2 linked regions of the Homo sapiens genome follow. The protein of the gene in region 2 purifies or fractionates together with the protein of the main gene of each other region. This does not show direct contact. Each region holds a gene or a part of one and is shown on either strand. Other genes may lie near its edges. The genes, in order: ALDH3A2 and CIP2A.

The links.
Region 1: the proteins of CIP2A (region 2) and ALDH3A2 purify together in Homo sapiens (affinity purification with mass spectrometry; 3 studies listed by BioGRID and IntAct, with this or other methods). This does not show direct contact.

What each region holds. Positions count from the first base shown.
Region 1 is NC_000017.11:19,665,654-19,675,178, reverse strand, and holds part of ALDH3A2 (aldehyde dehydrogenase family 3 member A2), read right to left. Parts: intron 3,459-9,525; coding exon 3,223-3,458; intron 2,029-3,222; coding exon of another isoform or gene 1,945-2,028; exon of another isoform or gene 1,904-1,944; intron 1-1,903.
Region 2 is NC_000003.12:108,548,961-108,558,485, forward strand, and holds the end of CIP2A (protein CIP2A), read right to left. Parts: intron 8,455-9,525; coding exon 8,258-8,454; intron 5,530-8,257; coding exon 5,416-5,529; intron 4,771-5,415; coding exon 4,688-4,770; intron 3,414-4,687; coding exon 3,274-3,413; intron 2,360-3,273; coding exon 2,189-2,359; 3' UTR 904-2,188; downstream 1-903.

The sequences.
Region 1 (9,525 bases), on a different chromosome or scaffold from region 2:
TTTCTAAAATTCAAAAGTAGTACTGAATTTAATCCTTCCTATTGAAGACTGAGGAAGGGCTGCTGCAATCTCAAGGTTCAAATGTCATATTTAGTTGTCAAAGGCCTAATGAAATTTATCAACATTAACCTCTTATGTTTCTCGACCTTTTAAAACCCACATCTCCCACAATGCCTTCTGTAGCTTATAAGCTTTATTGGAACTTTACTTTGTGTACAATACTTCTGCTCTAAATCCCTTCTAATTCTAGTAAGGTAATTAATAAAATAAAATCCAAGAGTGTAACAAAATAAGGAAACTATTAAGTACATAAAAGCCATTTCAGAAAAATGTAATTACAATAAATAGACTATTCAGGTAAATATACAGTACAGATTCAAAGTCATTTATTTTAAATAAAAGGTAATTTGATAAAAAGAGGATTAAAAGCTCAGAAAGGAGCAGAAAAGCAGCAAAGTGGAAAAGAAAACCAAATCTCTACCTAGTTCCAGATTGAATCCAAAGAAATATTAACAACTATTAGTAATGAGAATTGAGCGGAAGGGTTGAAAGTGGCCTGGGGAATCACTGACACCTACTCCCTCACCCTGTAGATGAGCAAGCTGAGGCCCAAGAAAGAGCTCAGAAAAGGCCTTGCCCAAGTTCATTGAGCCAGGAATCAAACCACATTTTTTTGTTTCTGCTAAAGGTTTTATATATTGCTGCTTCTTTTATATATTGCTGCTTCTCTAGACCCTCACAGAGAAACATGCCTGCCAAACCCTTTGGGAACTCGAACCTGCCTGGCACACTGCACTGCACCTGAGGGAGGCTTCTTGGGGGTTTGGTAAGATTGGAGAATGCAGACTCAGCCTGGGCCTCCGTATTTTCCATGAGGCTAAAATATTCTATCCTACCAAGATGCATTATCAAACTGAGGAACCGAGGTCTTGGGAAAAGAACAAAAGAGACAGATATTGACCAGAGACCCAAGTAAGCTTCCGACCACACCTCCAGCCTCAGGAAGGCAAAGAAAGTAGCCCCTAAATTGTATACTACACCTTGATTTCACGACATTTGCTGCCATGAATTCCAAAGTCAAACCTTTTTTTAAAAATGAAAACAAATCAAAACTACTTAGTGATTTAAAAAACATATTCTTAAATTATGACATAAAGAGTTCAGTGCCTAGATGGTGACAAGTCTGAATTAGTCAGCTGGCACCTCCCCCAGGAGAGCTGAGTAGAAGGGGAAGAGAAATGAGGCTCACACTCAGCTGCCCTTTTCCAAGAAATGATGTATGCTTCACCTGGACGCAGCTAAGCCATTGCCTCTGCACACTTCTCTTAGATTCCTAGCAAGTCACTTCACCCTTTTAAAATTGTGGATAAGTGGAGTTTTAACACCCTGATACTCTGGGCCCAGGTCCAAAATGTCTAGAGATAAGTAAGTTAAACATTCTTTTTTCTTTCTTTTTTTTTGGAGACGGAGTCTTGCTCTGTCACCCAGGGTGGAGTGCAGTGGCACAATCTTGGCTCACTGCAACCTCTGCCTCCCGGGTTAAAGCAATTCTCCTGCCTCAGCCTCCCTAGTAGCTGGGACTACAGTCACGTACCACCACACCCAGCTAACGTTTGTATTTTTAGTAGAGATGGGGTTTCACCATGTTGGCCAGGCTGTTCTCGAACTCCGGAACTCAGGCAATCCACCTGCCTTGGCCTCCCAAAGTGCTAGGATTACAGGCGTGAGCCACTGCGCCCGGCCCATTCTTTTTTCAATAACCCTTAAGCCTCCAACTGTAGCAAAAAAAAAACAAAAATAAAAACAAAAACAAAAACAAAAACAAAAACAAACCAAAAAACCCTTGAAAACATACCCCAACTTGGCCCACCTTACATATAGAAAGAAAACAAAAAGTTCCTACCTCACTCTTAACAGACAGGGCTGGGTTTTGAAATCTGGTGTTCATCTCTGCTTACTGGACCAACGCAGTCTGTGAACTACCAGAAAAATCAACAGGGCCTTTCTCCTCAGCACAGCTTGGTATTTCTGAGAAAACCCAAATGATTTCAAATGCAACTGGTATCTCCAATTCCACTAAGGCTGGGATACTGTAAGATGAGCCAAACCCCTTTCAAATTTTTGTTGTTGTTGTTGTTGAGATGGAGTCTCGCTCTATTGCCCAGGCTGGAGTGCAGTGGCATGATCTTGGCTCACTGCAACCTCCACCTCCCGGGTTCAAGTGATTCTCCTCCCTCAGCCTCCCGAGTAGCTGGGACTACAGGTGCGTGCCACCATGCCTGGCTAATTTTTGTATTTTTAGTAGAGACAGGGTTTCACCATATTGGTCAGGCTGGTCTTGAACTCCTGACCTCGTGATTCCCCTGCCTCAGCCTCCCGAAGTGCTAGGATTACAGGTGTGAGCCACTGCGCCGGCCCCCTTTCAAATTTTAAACAAAACATAAACACAACTATTACCATTGCCTTTTCCAAGCCCATTCTTCACTGATATGGTCAATATTTTCAATGTTATATCCTCAGTTGAACGGCTGAGGGCACCACAGACACAATTGCCTTCCTCATTCCATCTTAACTTTAATTACGGATTTCCTCTTTCATCTCAAAATACGCAAACTGCTTTGAGAAGGCAGCTATCATGAGGGCCTCTTTGCAAGCCCATCCCTATAATGACTAATCACCAAAGATAAACTTTATCAGGTAGTGAACTTTGGAGGAAAAAAACTCAAGCCTAATAAAATATCCCTCACCAAAGCTGTTGTACCAGAGTTCTTGCCTTCACCTCTGTGGTAAGCTGATTTCATGCACATTCAAGAACAAAGCTGTAAGTGACAAGGAAAGTCCAATACCAAAAGGATCAAAGGGCTAACCCTTTGATCAGACAGCTCAGAATTCTGCAATCAAGTTCTACGCTGTTTTAATCTCTTAGACCAGAGATCAGCAAACTTTTCTGTAATAATTTAGGCTCTGAGGGCCATTCAGCCTCTGTTGCAACTACTCAGCTCTGTCACTGTCCCATGAAAGCAGCTGTGGATGATTAAACAAGTGGGTGTGGCTGTGTTCCAATAACTTCAGTGACAAAAACGGGTAGCTGGCCAGCAGGCTGTGGTTCACTGACCCTGTCTTAGACTCTACAAGTTAATGTAGAGTCCTGCTAGAATATGCATCTGGCAGCCATCAGGCCAGGACCAGACTGAATGGCACTCATGGGTTATAGGGACTCACCTTGACAAGCACAGCGGCTACAATACCCAGGAAAGTGAGCAACAGGAGACCGAGTTTTTCTTTGTTGAACCGTTTCAAGAGAAAAAATTTTCCCCAATCCACCTTTGACTGGCTGTTGGGAGGATATCTGAGTTTGTTAGCACCTTCTCTCTTTAAACTTTTTAATAAACAGGGACGCTGATGAGAAAAAGTATCAAAACTATGTTTTCCGTGATAAGCTCCCATCCCACTGGAACCTGAAATAAAGGGAACAGACAAAACAAGCTTCACTGTAGATGATGCAAGCTACTTCTGTCTAACAACGACCGGGAAAGCTCACATGCACTCCCTGCTGCCTGGGAACCCCACTGAACATCTCTGCCAGCTGAAGTATCTCTTTTCAGGAAGTCCTTACCAACTTCCCTGGAAAAGTCAATTTCCCTGTCAAACAGGATGCTTTCCATGAGCAAGACAAGGACTTGCACCTCTTCTAGAGCTGTGGCTCTCATTTATGCCAGGGACTGTGCTAAGAGTTAAATCATTCTCTTAAGATAATTCTCACCACAATCCCACTTGGTGAATTATCAGCAGCCTCATTTCCAGAGAGGGAAAGGGAGCTTACAGGGTCAGTTAACCTGCCCAGGGTCACACGGCTGCTAAGTGGCAAAGCCAGAACCCGAACCTGGATCAGACTCTAAATGCTATATGTGCTCTCTTCCCACCATCCCATGTGGCTTCATTCATCCATGGCCCCACACACCCACTTGCTTTCTCAAAGCCTGTGGAAAGTAAGACAGGGCAACAAGGTTGCACAGCTGGATGATAATAAGCAAGTGTAAATCTCTGCCCTCCACAAAGCCATGCTCTGTGACAGTTTCATTTCTCTAATTCATTGTGTGTACAACAGACTGACAGGCACAAAGCGGAGCAGTGTGAGCTGGGCAGAGGGAATGGCATGTGTGATATAAGACACAGGTGACCAGAGGCCAGGGAGCAGTTTACCAAGGCCAGGCTGCAGGAAGGAATCATTCATGAAGCAGGCCTGGTGTGAGAAGAGACCCAAGGACAAGACCATGAGAAACCCTAACTCTGAGGGAGGGTAAAGAATGAGGGAGGGGGCCGGGTGCGGTGGCTCACGCCTGTAATCCCAGCACTTTGGGAGGCCAAGGCGGGTGGATCACAAGGTCAAGAGATCAAGACCATCCTGGCCAACATCGTTAAATCCCGTCTCTACTAAAAATACAAAAATTAGTTGGACGTGGTGGCGCACGCCTGTAGTCCCAGCTACCTGGGAGGCTGAGGTAGGAGAATTGCTTGAACCTGGGAGGCGGAGGTTGCAGTGAGCTGAGATCGCGCCACTGCACTCCAGCCTGGGCGACAGAGCGAGACTCCGTCTCAAAAAAAAAAAAAAAAAGAATAAGGGAGGGGCGAGCCAAAGACATAACCAAGGTAGTAAGAAACTGGGAAAAATTTGGGAGGCTGATGCAGGAGGATTGCTTGAGCCCAGGAGTTCAAAGTTGCAGTGAGCTATGATTGTGCCACACTGCATTCCAGCCTGGTCAACAGAGTGAGACCCTGTCTCAAAAAATAAATAAAAAGCAAAAAACTGACATGAAGGAAATTACAAAGTTTTGTTGAAAGATATAAAAGGGCTATATAAATGAAGAGATGATATAACATATTCCCATTAAGACTCCACATTTTAAAGATATAAATTCTTCCCAAAATAATTTAAGTTTAAATCAATTTTAATAAAAATCCTAGGGGATTTCGGAAGGTTTTGTTTGTTTGTTTTAAGTAGGAGGAGGTAGTGATTCCAAAGATCATCTGGAAAAATAAATTTAGATAAGAACAAGCAAGAAAACATCGAAAAACAGTAATAATGAGGAGCTTTTACTTTTAGGTATTGAAATAGTACTGTGTCCTAAAGAGCAAACTACTGGATTGGTTGAATATGTGGGTTTTGGAGCCAGACAACTTTGGCTCATTTCTTGGCTTTACTACTTATTAGTTGTCTGTCTCTAAAATGCGTGCATTTGACCGGGCACGGTGGCTCACACCTGTAATCCCAGCACGTTGGGAGGCTGAGGTGGGAGGATTGCTTGAGCCCAGGAATTCAAGACCAGCCTGGGCAACACAGTGAGACCCCGCCTCTATACAAAAAAAATTTTTTTAATTAGCCAGGCATGGTGGTGCACCCTTGTAATCCCAGCTATTCAGGAGGCTGAGGCGGGAAGATTGTTTGAGCCTAAGAGGTTGAGGCTGCAATGAGCCGTGATTGCACCACTGTACTCTGGCTTGGGTGACAGAGTGAGACCCTATCTCAAACAAGAAAAAAAAGAAAAGAAAAGGCGTGGATTCAACCGCAGTACCTGGCATACAATAAGCACTTACTAAATGTCACTTATAAAGCTAACTGTACAACTACTGTAATTGAAACTGTGGTACTGGCCCACGGAAAAAACAAACCAGAAAGATAATGCAACCAATGAGAAAACCCTAAGAATGACCCAAACGTGTTTTTATTGAGTACTGATGGTATAAGGATGATTATTTCAAAAAATGGTGCCAGCATAGTTTACTCTTTGGGAAAAAAAAGGTAAATTATTACATCATGCAGCGTATGGCATTCTAAAGTGAACTCCAGGGTGTTTTTTTTGTTTGTTTGTTTTTTTGAGATGGAGTCTCGCTCTGTTGCCCAGGCTGGAGTGCAGTGGCATGATCTTGGCTCACTGCAGCCTCCGCCTCCCAGGTTCAAGCGATTCTTCTGCCTCAGCCTCCCAAGTAGCTGGGACTACATGTGCATGCCACAATGCCCAGCTAATTTTTTTTTTTGTATTTTTTGTGGAGATGAGTTTTCACCATGTTGGCCAGGCTGGTCTCAAGATTCTGACCTCGGGTGATCTACCTGCCTCGGCCTCCCAAAGTGCTGGGATTATAGGTGTGAGCCACCATGCTTGGCCAACTCCATGGTTAAATGGAAAGAAAAGAAAAGAAAAAAGAAAAGAAAAGAAGAAAAGGAGGGAGGGAGGGAAGGAAACTACAGATAATATTTAATTATTTATTTATTTTATTCTTATTTTTTTGAGACAGAGTCTCGCTCTGTTGCCCAAGCTGGAGGTACAGTGGTGCACTCTCTGCTCACTGCAACCTCCGCCTCCAGGGTTCAAGTGATTCTACTGCCTCAGCCTCCTAAGTAGCTGGGATTACAGGTGGTGCCGCCACACCCAGCTAATTTTTTGTATTTTTAGTAGAGACGGGGTTTCACCATGTTAGCCAGGTGCCTTGGCCTCCCCAAGTGCTGGGATTACAGGTGTGTGCAACCGCACCCAGCCTACAGATGATATTTATATAATAATGAAATAGGGAAAGCTTTTCTAAGCCTACTTTCCAAATCGGAAACCAAAAAACAAAAAGCCACACAGGCTTAGGCCAGATGTGGTGGCTCATGCCTGTAATCCCAGCACTTTGGGAGGCTAAGGCAGGTGGATCACCTGAGATCAGGAGTTGAGGACCAGCCTGGCCAACATGGTGAGACCCCATCTCTACTAAAACTACAAAAATTAGGTAGGAGTGGTGTCGGGTGCCTGTAATCCCAGCTACTTGGGAGGTTGGGGCAGGAGAATTGCTTGAAGCCAGGAGTCAGAGGTTGCAATGAACCGAGGTCGCGCCATTGCACTCCACCCTGGGTGACAGAGTGAGACTCTGTCTCTAAATAAATAAACGCTTCAAATCATAGATAAAATTAAAAGAAAAATTAAAATCTGGAAAGGGATATGTATTACAGATAGGACTGAGGATTTTCTTACTTATAAAAAAGGCTATTTATATACCAATAATAAGGAAGATGTGAACACAGCAAAAATATCAAAGGACATAAATAGAAAATTCATGAGAGTGGTAAAAAAAATTCAAACTCACTAATAATCAAAGGAGTACAAATTGAAATGAGACCCTTTTCTGTCTAGAAATTTAATAATGGAATAATCCAGAATTGGGGATATAAGGAAGTAAACACTCATATACTGATCATGGGAATATAAAGTGGCAGAAATCTGCAAAGACACTTGAAATATCTATCAAAAGTCTTAAAGAGAAGCATTTCTAAAGAAAAACCTAGGCTGGGTGCGATGGCTCACACCTGTAATCCCAGCACTTTGGGAGGCCAAGGCAAGTGGATCTCTTGAGCCCAGGAGTTTGAGACCAGGCTGGCTAACATGGCAAAACCGTGTCTCTACTAAAAATACAAAAATTAGCTGGGCCTGGTGGCACACACCTGTAGTTCCAGCTACTTGGGAGGCTGAGCCAGGAGAATTGCTAGAACCCAGGAGTTGGAGGTTGCAATGAGCTGAGATCACACCACTGCACTCCAGCTTAGGTGACAGGGAGTCTCAGTCTCGATAAAAAGAAAAAAAAAAGAAAAATCTAAACTATATGCCAAAATATTAAAAAGTTTAACTGTTTAGACTTTTTGCCACTGTGTCTATATTACTTTGAGAATTAGAAGAAAAAAGCATTTTTTTCAATTTGGAAAATTGTATAAGCCCTTTTAACAGAGTAATTACACTTGTAGACATTTTTCCTAAAGAAATAATCAGAGATTGCATAAAGATACATTATATAAGAATCGTAATACCAAAAAAATTGAAATCACAAAAATCTAATACTGGGAATTGGTTACATAAATATGCCACATTCATATGATGGAAAAGTATGCAGCTACTAAAATTATGACATGCAAGAATATTGACATGGAAAAGTGTCACACTATTCTGTCACATACAGGGTACAGAACAATATATAGTATGATACCTTTTTGAATAGAATATTCAGATGACCGTGTATATGTGTGTGCATATGTGTGCAAGACATATACCAGTTATCTTTACATAGTGGGGTTATGGGTAATATAAATGTTTATTCTTTGGGCTCTTCTATCTTTTCCAAGTTTTCTTAAAAAGCCTGTATTCTTTTTACATTTGGGGGTCAAGGCTTGTTTTTATTTTTTATTTTTATTTTTTTACAGCATGGCCACTATAATAATGTATTATATGCCTGAAATTTGCTAAGAGAGTAAACCTGTTTTTTTCTTTTGCATCTTCTTTTTGTATTTTTAATTTTTGTGGGTATATAATAGGTTGCTTGTTTTATTTTATTATTTTTATTTATTTATTTATTTATTTATTTATTTATTTATTTTGAGATCGGAGTCTCGCTCTGTTTGCCAGGTTTGAGTGCAGTGGCGCAATCTCAGCTCACTGCAACCTCCACCTCCCTGGTTCAAGCAATTCTCCTGCCTCAGCCTCCCTGGTAGCTGGGACTACAGGCACGCACCACCACACCCAGCTAACATTTGTATTTTTAGTAGAGATGGGGTTTCACCATGTTGGCCAGGCTGGTCTGGAACTCCTGACCTCAAGTGATCCACCCACCTCGGCCTCCCAAAGTGCTGGGATTACAGGCATGAGCCACTGCGCCCAGCCTTGTTTTGTTTTAAATAAGATGGTATAGTCAATGATGCCACAGGCTATCTTGTCAAGTAGGACAGGGACTGAACCCAAGTCACTTAGATTTGCAATTAGAGGGCAGTGGAGACACCATATGGAACAATTACCGAGTTGATTACTGCACTAGCACAGTGGATGCCAGGATCCTATGTGGTGAGCTGAGGAACAGAGACAACAGAGTCCAATCTTTTAAGCATTTGGGCTACAAAACTATTACTTACTCCAGCCAAAATCCCAGGAGTCATCCTCTCTCATTCACCCCCTCCTCCAACATTCACTCCATCAGCCAATCCTGCTGCTTGATCCCAAAAATACCCCCTTCCCTTTCCACTATCTCCCCTGCTACCACCCTCTACAAGCCACCACCATTTCCAATTTGGATCTGGCAATACCTACCAATTGGCCTCTTCCCGCCTGTCCCTCACTCATGTCAGTCACTGTGCTGGGTGCTGGCAATATGTTTACCTCCTAGACAAGGACCTGTGGCTATATAGGTCAAGGCTCCTTGGTCATAGGACAAGGTTTCCTTAACCAGGAACAGATGGTCCTGCCAAACTGGGCCATCGCATCCCATGGAGCAACTGACTTAGGACGGTATTACAAAGGGAGAGGATAGAACAGGGCTTTAAGACAGTGGCTTTTCTGGTTGGGTTTTTGTTATGAGAATGTTTACATATCGGCTATTTTGTAATAGCTCTAGTAGAGAGTAGAAAAGCCCACCTAGCCTAGGTCCCAAAGGAGAAATAAAAAGCTGAGTCAGTCATCTCACATGTGGGAGAGGCAGGCAGGTCATGTTCTAAAGGGAAAAGCAAGGATC
Region 2 (9,525 bases):
CCTGACATTAAATTAATGAACAATTTAATATAAACTTTAACCAACCAAATTTTATGAGATGTGTCTATTTGTTCAAGTGGCAAGTGTAAATAGTAACGGAACTGTGTTAATGTATACTTTGGAGACAAACTCTCCCCAGCAAAATTTTAAGAGGATGCGAGTAATCCTAATATAATGATGCACTTCCTAAGTTTTGTTTTTTCCATTAGGAAATGGACATGCATACACACATACAAAACCCTGACTATGGTGGTGGTTCAAATTTGATTAAATTTTTTTTTTTAGAAAAAAAATATTTACACACACTTTTGCTTTTTTAATATGAGGTACACAGTCCAACAAGAAAAAAAAAGTAACTGATATAGTAAAGGCACTCAGAAAAACAACAGAAACAATATGAAAGGTGTTACAAGAGACAGAAAGAGATGAAGGATGATGATTAGTACTCACCTTCTTCAAAGCTGCAGTACGGACTTTCTTCTTTAGGGAGAGAAGATTAGAAATAAACAGGTTAAAATTACATTAAGAAAGGGCTACTACATATATATAATGGGGTAATTATTTATATAGATCTTTAAGAAAAGGCAAATTGAGTTCTTTAAACACATACTTGTGAGAATGGGACAGATCTGCATTATCTAACAGGATGGTTATCAAAATTAAATTTAATAAAATCAAAAATTTAGTTTTTTCAGTTGCAAAGGCCAAATTTCAAGTGCTCAATGGCCACTTTTAGCCACTGGCTATGGGACTGGACATCATAGAACACTGTCATTATCACAGAAAATTGTATAGGGTAGCACTAGGCTAGGCTGTCTCAAGATGTCTAAATTGGAAAGATAAATTGATTTTCCCTAGAATTTTTGGTTCATTCATTCATTTCTTTCTTTAACGTTTTGTCTCTTTTATTTTATAGACCCTTTTATTCTTCAGTCTTATCTATCCACTTAAACTTTTTCATATTTGGTTGAAAATGCATGCAATTTCAAAAGAGAAACAGAATGTATCTCCTCTATAGAACAAATAGTAATTTAAAATGTTTTACTCTGCATAATATTTTTTAAAAAATTTCCAGAACTGTACAAATCTAAATTCACTTAAATCAAACAGACATATGGTGAAGAAAACACCAAGTAAAATTAATGACTGTATTGGTATAGCAATAAAATCAATCAAAATATTGATGTAAAAACGTTTCTTACAGAGTAGTTAGAGGATATGATTCAAATGAAAAGTACAGAAGGACCCTTGTATTTTAAAAAAAATAAAGATATTTAACCTATGCTTTAAAATTAAATGAACCAATTAAAAACTATTAGGACAACAAATTAAATACAATTCATATCAGAATTAACAGTAAATAATATTTTTCTGAATATGCAGCAAGAGTAGAATCCAAATTATCCTTATGTAAATCATAAGAAACTTATAATTAATTATAGATGATCTGGACCACTATGCAACATTTGAAAAAAGAGAAAAAAACACTAAATATACCTTACAAATAATTCTACAAGTTCTTAGATTTTTTATGAGACAGCTATTGTGTTAAATGTAATCATTTAAATGTAATAGTTTAACACAATGACAGTTTTCTAATTTTTATACATTTTATTACCATTGCATTTTTTTCAAATTTAGAAATTATGCTACAGCAGTATAAAAATTATTTTAAATTCACTAATATTTTCTTTTGTGCTTCTTCAGAGACAAACTTCTCTAGCAGTAAAATCATACCTTCTCTCTTTTTACTTTACTTTTTACTTTTACTCTCTCTATATTTTTATTTTGTAATCTTTAGGACTGTTATACCAAGAAAGTTTGGTCTTAAGATCTAAATAATCACAAATGAGAATAAATAAGACAGGCAAAACAGAATAGAAAGCAACTAAGAAAAAGGAAAGAACCTTAGAAAAATGATAATGGAGGTTAAAAATGATTTTCTAATGTAAGAACCAAAGAAAACCTTAAGCCATAAAAGCCAGAAACAAAAAGTAAAACTTAGAAAATTAAATTTCTATTCAAACTATCAAATAAAAAACATGCAACAGATCAGGGTCTTTACTAAATTAGATAATAACTTCTTATTGTTACGAAGTCACAAATTAACTCCCCTACCCACCCCCCCTCCAATAGATAAATACATCAAAAATATCATGAGATTACAAATTCCAAAATGCCATAATGTCTATATACTGAGATTCACAGTTTCTGGATTTATTTTTCCACCACTTAAACTGTGGATCATTGCTATCATGTGGGAGTGTTTGTTCAATTCCTCTTGCTGAAGTTTCACCAAGGACTCTTTCTCTTCCAAACGACCTTCTAATTGTGCCTTTTGAACCTCTAGGGAGGAAGCCTAAGGAATTGGGGTTGGGGGAGGAGGAAGAATTGAGAAGAAAAATAACTTTAATGTTTTCTCTATACATATATTTTAAGATGCTTTTATTTTTTATTGTACAACAACCATTTCAAGACATACTATAAATATTATACTTCAGTTAATTCAATTACATGGTAAGTTTAAAATGAATAATCATTAAACAATATAATACAAATTGAGAATACACTTTCAACTTGTCTTAAGTTAATGCCAGCAGCTGAAATTTTGCAGAAAATACTACACACTACATATTAAAATTACTAATAAGATAATCACATTAAAGCAGAACCAGAAAAACTGTAAATGTGGTACTAAATTTTATGCCTCTTCTGTTACTCAGTAGTAGTAGTAGATCAGTCTTTAATCCTAGTCTGTTCTCATCTTCCTGGTAGTAAACGGGCCAGAAAGTACAATTCATAGCTACCACTCAAGCTATGCAACCATGGTAATATAGAAAGAACCCCGGACTCAGATTCAGAATATATACCTATTGATTCACTTATTAGCTGTGTGACTTTAGTAAGTAACCTCAGACTCAGTTTCTTCAGTTGTAAGTTGAAAATATTTATTAACACATTATATAATATTTGTTAAAGTGAAAATTATACAGCTACCTATATATGACATCAAGTACTGGTAACCCCTTTCTGTATTCTTTGCACACTTGAAAATACCAGGTGCTGACACAAAGTATCTGTTTAATAACTGCTTAACTATTTTAGAAAATACATTATGAAAACCTCATAACAAATGATACTCAAGCTGCTTTGAGATCCTAATATCTTCTAAAAAATTTGCTGAAGAAACAGTACATTCCTTTATCCATATTCACCCTTTTCACAACAGACTTTTTTATTTTACTGCAAATGAGAAATGGAACAGATTCTTACCTTAATGCTCAACTCTTTTCTTATCTGTTCTGTTCTGCTTAATTCTTTTCTAAGGATATCAATGGTTTCTTCCTTATCTTCCCTTTCCTTTTGTAAGGTTTTAATCTTTTCTTCTTGTACTTTTGTTTTTTGATGCAAATCTTAAAAGAAAAAAAAGTCAAGTATTATACTCAGAGGTCTTACACTGACTACTCTGAAATGGTCTAGTAGCTACTGTAAGAGCAAAAGAGAAATAACTAGAACAAGGAAGAGAAACTTCTCTTATGACAGTATTCTATAGAAAATACCAAATCTCCATGTCTTTCTTCCATCCTCTGTTCTAAATATAATATGCTATATAGGTAAAGGACAATTCTCAAAAGTGTAAGGGTTAGAAAAGGGAGAGCTACAACTATGAAAAATTATATAGGTAGGTGCCTGCGCTCTAAGGCAAGTGAGAACAAAAATGTTTTTCAGGATCATTTCAAATATACCATTAAGAAGCTAGTAACTAAAAGTTACCTAATACTGCCACCTGCTGTTACGTTCCTTCAACATTTTTTTATTTTGAAAAGGGCAATCCATAATCCTATGTGATTTAACGAAGGAACAGAAAACCAAATACTCCAAGTTTTCACTTCTAAGTGGGAACTAAACATTGAGTACACACAGACTTAAAGATGGAACCAATAGACACTGCAGACTAGAGTTGGCAGGAGGTTGAAAATTACCTATTGCTACCTATTTGGTACTATGCTTACTACCTGGGTGATGAGATCCATACCCCAAACATCCGTGTCATGCAATATACCCAGTGTAACAGACCTGCACACATGCCCCCTGATTCTAAAAGTTGAAATAATAAAAAAATTAAATTAAATTAAATGGTCAATCATCTCTTTCCTTTTGTTTTTTTTTTTTTTTTTTTTTTTTTTGAGACAGTCTTGCTTTGTCACCCAGGTTGGAGTGCAGTGGCGTGAACATAGCTCACTGCAGCCTTGACATCCAGGTTCAAGAGATTCTCCCACTGTAGCTTCCTGAGTAGCTGGAACTACAGGTGCACACTAACACACCTGGCTAAATTTTTGTATTTTTTGTAGAGATGGGGTTTCACCATGTTGCTCAGGCTGGTCTCAAACTCCTGAGCTCAAGCAATCTACCCATCTCCAACTCCCAAAGTGCTGGGATTACAGGAGTGAGCCACTGTGCCTGGCCAATTTCTTATAGCTCCTAAATTTAAAAAACGTACCACTTTTTCAACTTGATTAAACCGAACTGCTTTTGTGAAACATTATGTCAAGAAAAGGGAAGCCATTCCAAATATGATTTAAAGTTTAAAACAATAAGTAGAAAATAAAAAAGCAAACAAAACCACTCATGCTTCCAAAATAAATACATTAAAAATAGAAAATGTATTAAATAAGAAGCCACTTACTTGCTAGCTTATGTTCTCTGTCTACTAGCTGATTCTGTACTTCTTTTCTCTGTTCTTCTTTCTCTATTAATTGGGCAATACTTCTGAAGTTATTAAAAAAAATAGAAGAAAACATTAATGAACCATATACCATTTGTAACTTTTTCTCCCTACCAAGCACTTTGGGAGGCCAAGGCGGGCAGATCACAAGGTCAGGAGATCGAGACCATCCTGGCTAACATGGTGAAACCCCGTCTCTACTAAAAATATAAAAAAAAAAAAAAAAAAAAAAAGGTCTCGTTCTGTCACCCAGGCTGGAGTGCAGTGGCATGATCTTGTGCTCACTGCAACCTCTGCCTCCCGGGCTCAAGTGATTCTCCTGCCTCAGCCTTCTGGGTAGCGGAGATTACAGGCACCCGCCACAACACCCAGCTAATTTTTGTATTTTCAGTATTTACAGAGTTTCGCCATGTTGGCCACGCTGGTCTCAAACTCCTGACCTCATGCGCTCCACCCACCTCAGCCTCCCAAAGTGCTGGGATTATAGGCGTGAGCTACCATGCCCAGCCTTTAAAACAAAATTTCTAAGAACAGCAATTGCCTGTAACTTCCACCAAATACATATCTTATATCTAAAATAAGTGACAATTCTATTAATTTTATCAATAAAAAACAATGTTCTATATAAAGGGAATCATTTTGTTTTTGAAAAATCCCACATATTCAGAATATAGAACTAGAGATTTTACTTTTCATTTTGTTCCTTGAGTGACTCATTCAACTTTTTCACTGTCTCAATTTGTTTATTCAGAGAATCACATGTGATCTGTAAATCTTTATTCTTCTTTTCAGTACTTTCATTTCTGAAAAGACAAGAAAATGAGTTGGCATCATTATGGAGGAAAACATATGAAGGAGAAAAGAAGCTCACAGTGTTTTCTTTACTATCTCTTCTAACCAAATTGCATATGCTGGAAGAGAAGGAATGTTATGAACAAGCAGGACATAAACAGAATTTCATCTACTCTAAAAGGCAGTAAATACATGTTTTGGTTGACTGATGTGGTAAAAATTACTATGAAATAGAAATGTGTGGGGCATTAATCTCATATTTATGGATATAAAGCCTTATTTTACAGATGATATTGCATTACATAATTTGCTATAAATAAGTTTAGGGTTCTACATTTGTCTCTTTAAAACTCTGCATCTAATAGTCCTAAGTATTTTACCTGCAAGGTAAACACAGAAAAAAATCCTTTCTAAAGTAATACTTTGATACTCAACTACCATAAGCATAAAATGTCTTTTTTATTTCACTAAGCACAAAGATTTTTAAAAAGCAACCCAAAAACCAAACCAAAACAAACAAAAAAAACCAGTAGCCAAACTTGGCCAGCAGTTTTTGTATCTAATCCATACAGGAATTTTAACAATCTGAGTTTGAGTGCCTTTAGACAGTCCTGACCATTACAAATGACCTTTTCCCCAGCCAGCTTCATTTACATGTTATCCACTTGTCCATTCAAGGAATTTCACCTTCTAGCCCCTAAATCACTAGCTGGAACATAAGCAGGTCTTAGAAACCACGTATTTTTCTTGGACGCTGCCTATCTCTTAGGTTCTCTATGTGAGACAAAGCAGGTATCCCCTTTTTAGGAGGTCTGAGGACCTCAAGCTGGAAAATAAAGGAAAATCCTGAGTTCACTCAAGGGAAATTCCAGGGACCTAGATAGCCCTAGAAGTAAATAAGTAACTTGTTAAACAGGAAGGTAATAGTAGCCTAAATCAAAGTTAACAAACTTAAGAGTACCAGTGATACTTGATTCTTTATAGAACTTAAAGAAAACAACTTAACACATGTCCCTGAGTTGTATTTCAGAGACCCGGACCCTCATTGAGGAAGCCCACTGACCAGATCCATTGACAAGTAGAGCTCAGGTAAGGAGAAAATGAAGGCTGAATTTTAACCACTGTTCTTTGTTCTAAGTTTCTTTCTCAGGGTCTTGAACAAAGTCACTCTCCCTAGCTAGTTAACATTTTTCTACTGACCCCAAATGTTTAAACAAAGCTGCTCTTCCTTAACCAACTGCAAATCGAAAAATCTTTGGGTCTACCCATGACCTGTAAGCCCCTGCTTCACAATATCCTGTCCTTTAAACTTAAACCAATGTATAACCTTTAACTATTTATTTATGATTTTTGTCTGTAACTTCCACTTTCCTGAAATTTACTCGCCTTTAAAAATCCTTGCTTGCAAGCTATTGGGGAGGTCAGTATTTGAGCATTTGGCTGCCTGCTCCTCCTTACTTGGCACCCTGCAGTAAAAGCCTTTTTTTCTATCACTGCAAACCTTGGTGCAGATACCTGGTTTTACTGTATTGAGCAAATGGAACCCATTTCAGTTCTATAACGTATTTTCTTCACTGCTGACGTTCTCAACTTGGCTTATCACTAATACTACACTTTATCAGTGGTGCCTCAAACAATCAGACTTTGTAAAAAGTTGCTGGGGTAAATATCCTGTTAAAAAATCACTTTGTCATCATTTTCTAGATACTATTCATTTCTCACCCTTCATTATTATTGATGGGAAATAAGCATATGTACCATGCCAAGCTAAAAATTTCTATATCTCTGTATTAACAACATAGAACAATCTTAAAATATAAAGCAATAAACAAGTTCCCCCAGAGTGTATTTACTTTTATGGGTTGGTAGAAAATACATAATTGTTCCTGGTCTTCCCTGTAATTCAGAAGTTTTACAACTGGCCTAAAAAGATAAAAGAGTTTATAAGGGAGGAAAAACCAATCAAACTTTGCTAGTAGGCACACAAATTGGTACAGGTTGAGCAACACTAATTTGAAAATCCAAAATCAGTCTAAAATCAAAAGTGCTCCAAAATATTAAACTTTTTGAGTGCTACCATTGTGTTCAAAAAGGACACTCAATCTGTATCACATTTTGGAGGAAAATTTAGAAATATCTATCAAAATATTAAATATACATACCCTTTAACTTAGCAATTCACCTATGTGAACTTATTCTACAGATGTAATCACACATGGAAGTAAACTATAATCAAGGATATTAAGAGATGAGTTAAACACTTACACCTAAATTTCCATTCTATTAGGCAGAATGATATGAAATTGCCAATATTCAACTACTTTTGATCTGCAGAAATGACCATTCAACCTAATACTAATTTGACAACTAAGTTTATTTAAAAATTATTAATGAAGTGCCTAACTATGCAGCAAGCACTCCTACAGGCCCTAGGGATCTGTCAGTGATCAAAACAGACAAACTTGTCCTTGTGGAGCTTATCTCCCAAATGACTGCTGACTGTTATGAATACATAAAAGAAGTCAACTGGAAAGACCTGTATTTTGTTTCCAACATTGATACTGAGTTTGAGGAAGCAACACTTCATTTCACAATGACTTAAGTTTCTTGCTAATTACTTACCTCATGTGTTATCAGAATATATGAAATGCTTACAAAAGGATTTTCGGGTCTCAGAAAAGAAATGCTGCATGTTCATTCTAGGTTCTAACCTTACACAGAAGATTTTACTTTATTTACCTCTGAAGAAGTTCCATGTAGGATTTTGTCAGTATTTCATGTTCTTCAGCCACAGACTCTAACTTCCTATTATGTTGAAAGAGATGCTCAATATCACTCTGCGCTCTTTCTGATTCAACTTGCTGCGCCTTCAGCAACACACTAAGCTCTTCATTTTTTCTCTCAACTTCTCTCAACATACTAGCAAGTGTCCGTGCCTCAAAAAAAAAAAGAAGATAGACTTTACCACTATCATCTATATCATATGCTCAACACATACCTACAATTTAAAAGTTTACTAAGTATCTAATAAGCTGGTATCTGTTGGGTCATGCAAAGCTGTATTAGTCACATATACTTAGGACTTTACTTCTAATAAGTTGGATACTGTTATATTTTTTTAACTTAATACATTATCTGATAAAAACAATCTCACTATGATCAAATTAATGGAAATGGATACAACTGCAGCAACATGAAGGTCGCGCTACATACAGTATTCAATTAAAAAGGTATGGTCCTCAGAGGTAGCCATTAACACTAAACTGCTAAGTGTGCACACCATCAGCATTCTCATTTCAGGTGAGAATTAAGAACAAAATCTTAACGACATCACAGATGCTTAATCAAACACTTAAAATTAAGCTAGTATAATCAAAGAATGTAACCTATACCATAACCTGCATGTATTTATTATGTGATATGAAACACTAAAAAAGCAGAAAAGTCGCTAGAATAAAAAGTTGGTTCCCCCCAGCCCTTTGGATTTTATTTTACAATGCTAGACAAAACCCTAAGCCTTTCTCTGTTTTTACGACTTTGTGAAGAACCTGTATCCAGTTATTTAGTGCTATTTTTATAAGAACTTTTCCAGTAACATGAATAAAATATTAAACTCTCTAATAAAATACAAGACATGTCCAACAGACAGAAAATATAAGAATGTGCTATGGGGAGAGGGAAAAATTATTTTAATATCACTAATGTTCTTTCTTGTAATTTGTGACAAATTCAACATACCAGTTAAGACAAATGAAACCATGTTAAAATAAGCAAAAAAGAAAGAAATATGGGGGAAAAAAAGAATACCATTATTCTGAAGAGACTTAAGAGGCATTTTACTAGTCACTTATTTTGATGCATCTTTCAAAAGCCAGGAACACTTTATTATAATTCATTCATTATAAATAATATCAAGTTGTATAGATTCCATTTGTATCTGCTGGGAATTTCATATTACTGCAGTAAGTTCACTCTTAAGGTATACATTATATATGTACATAATACAA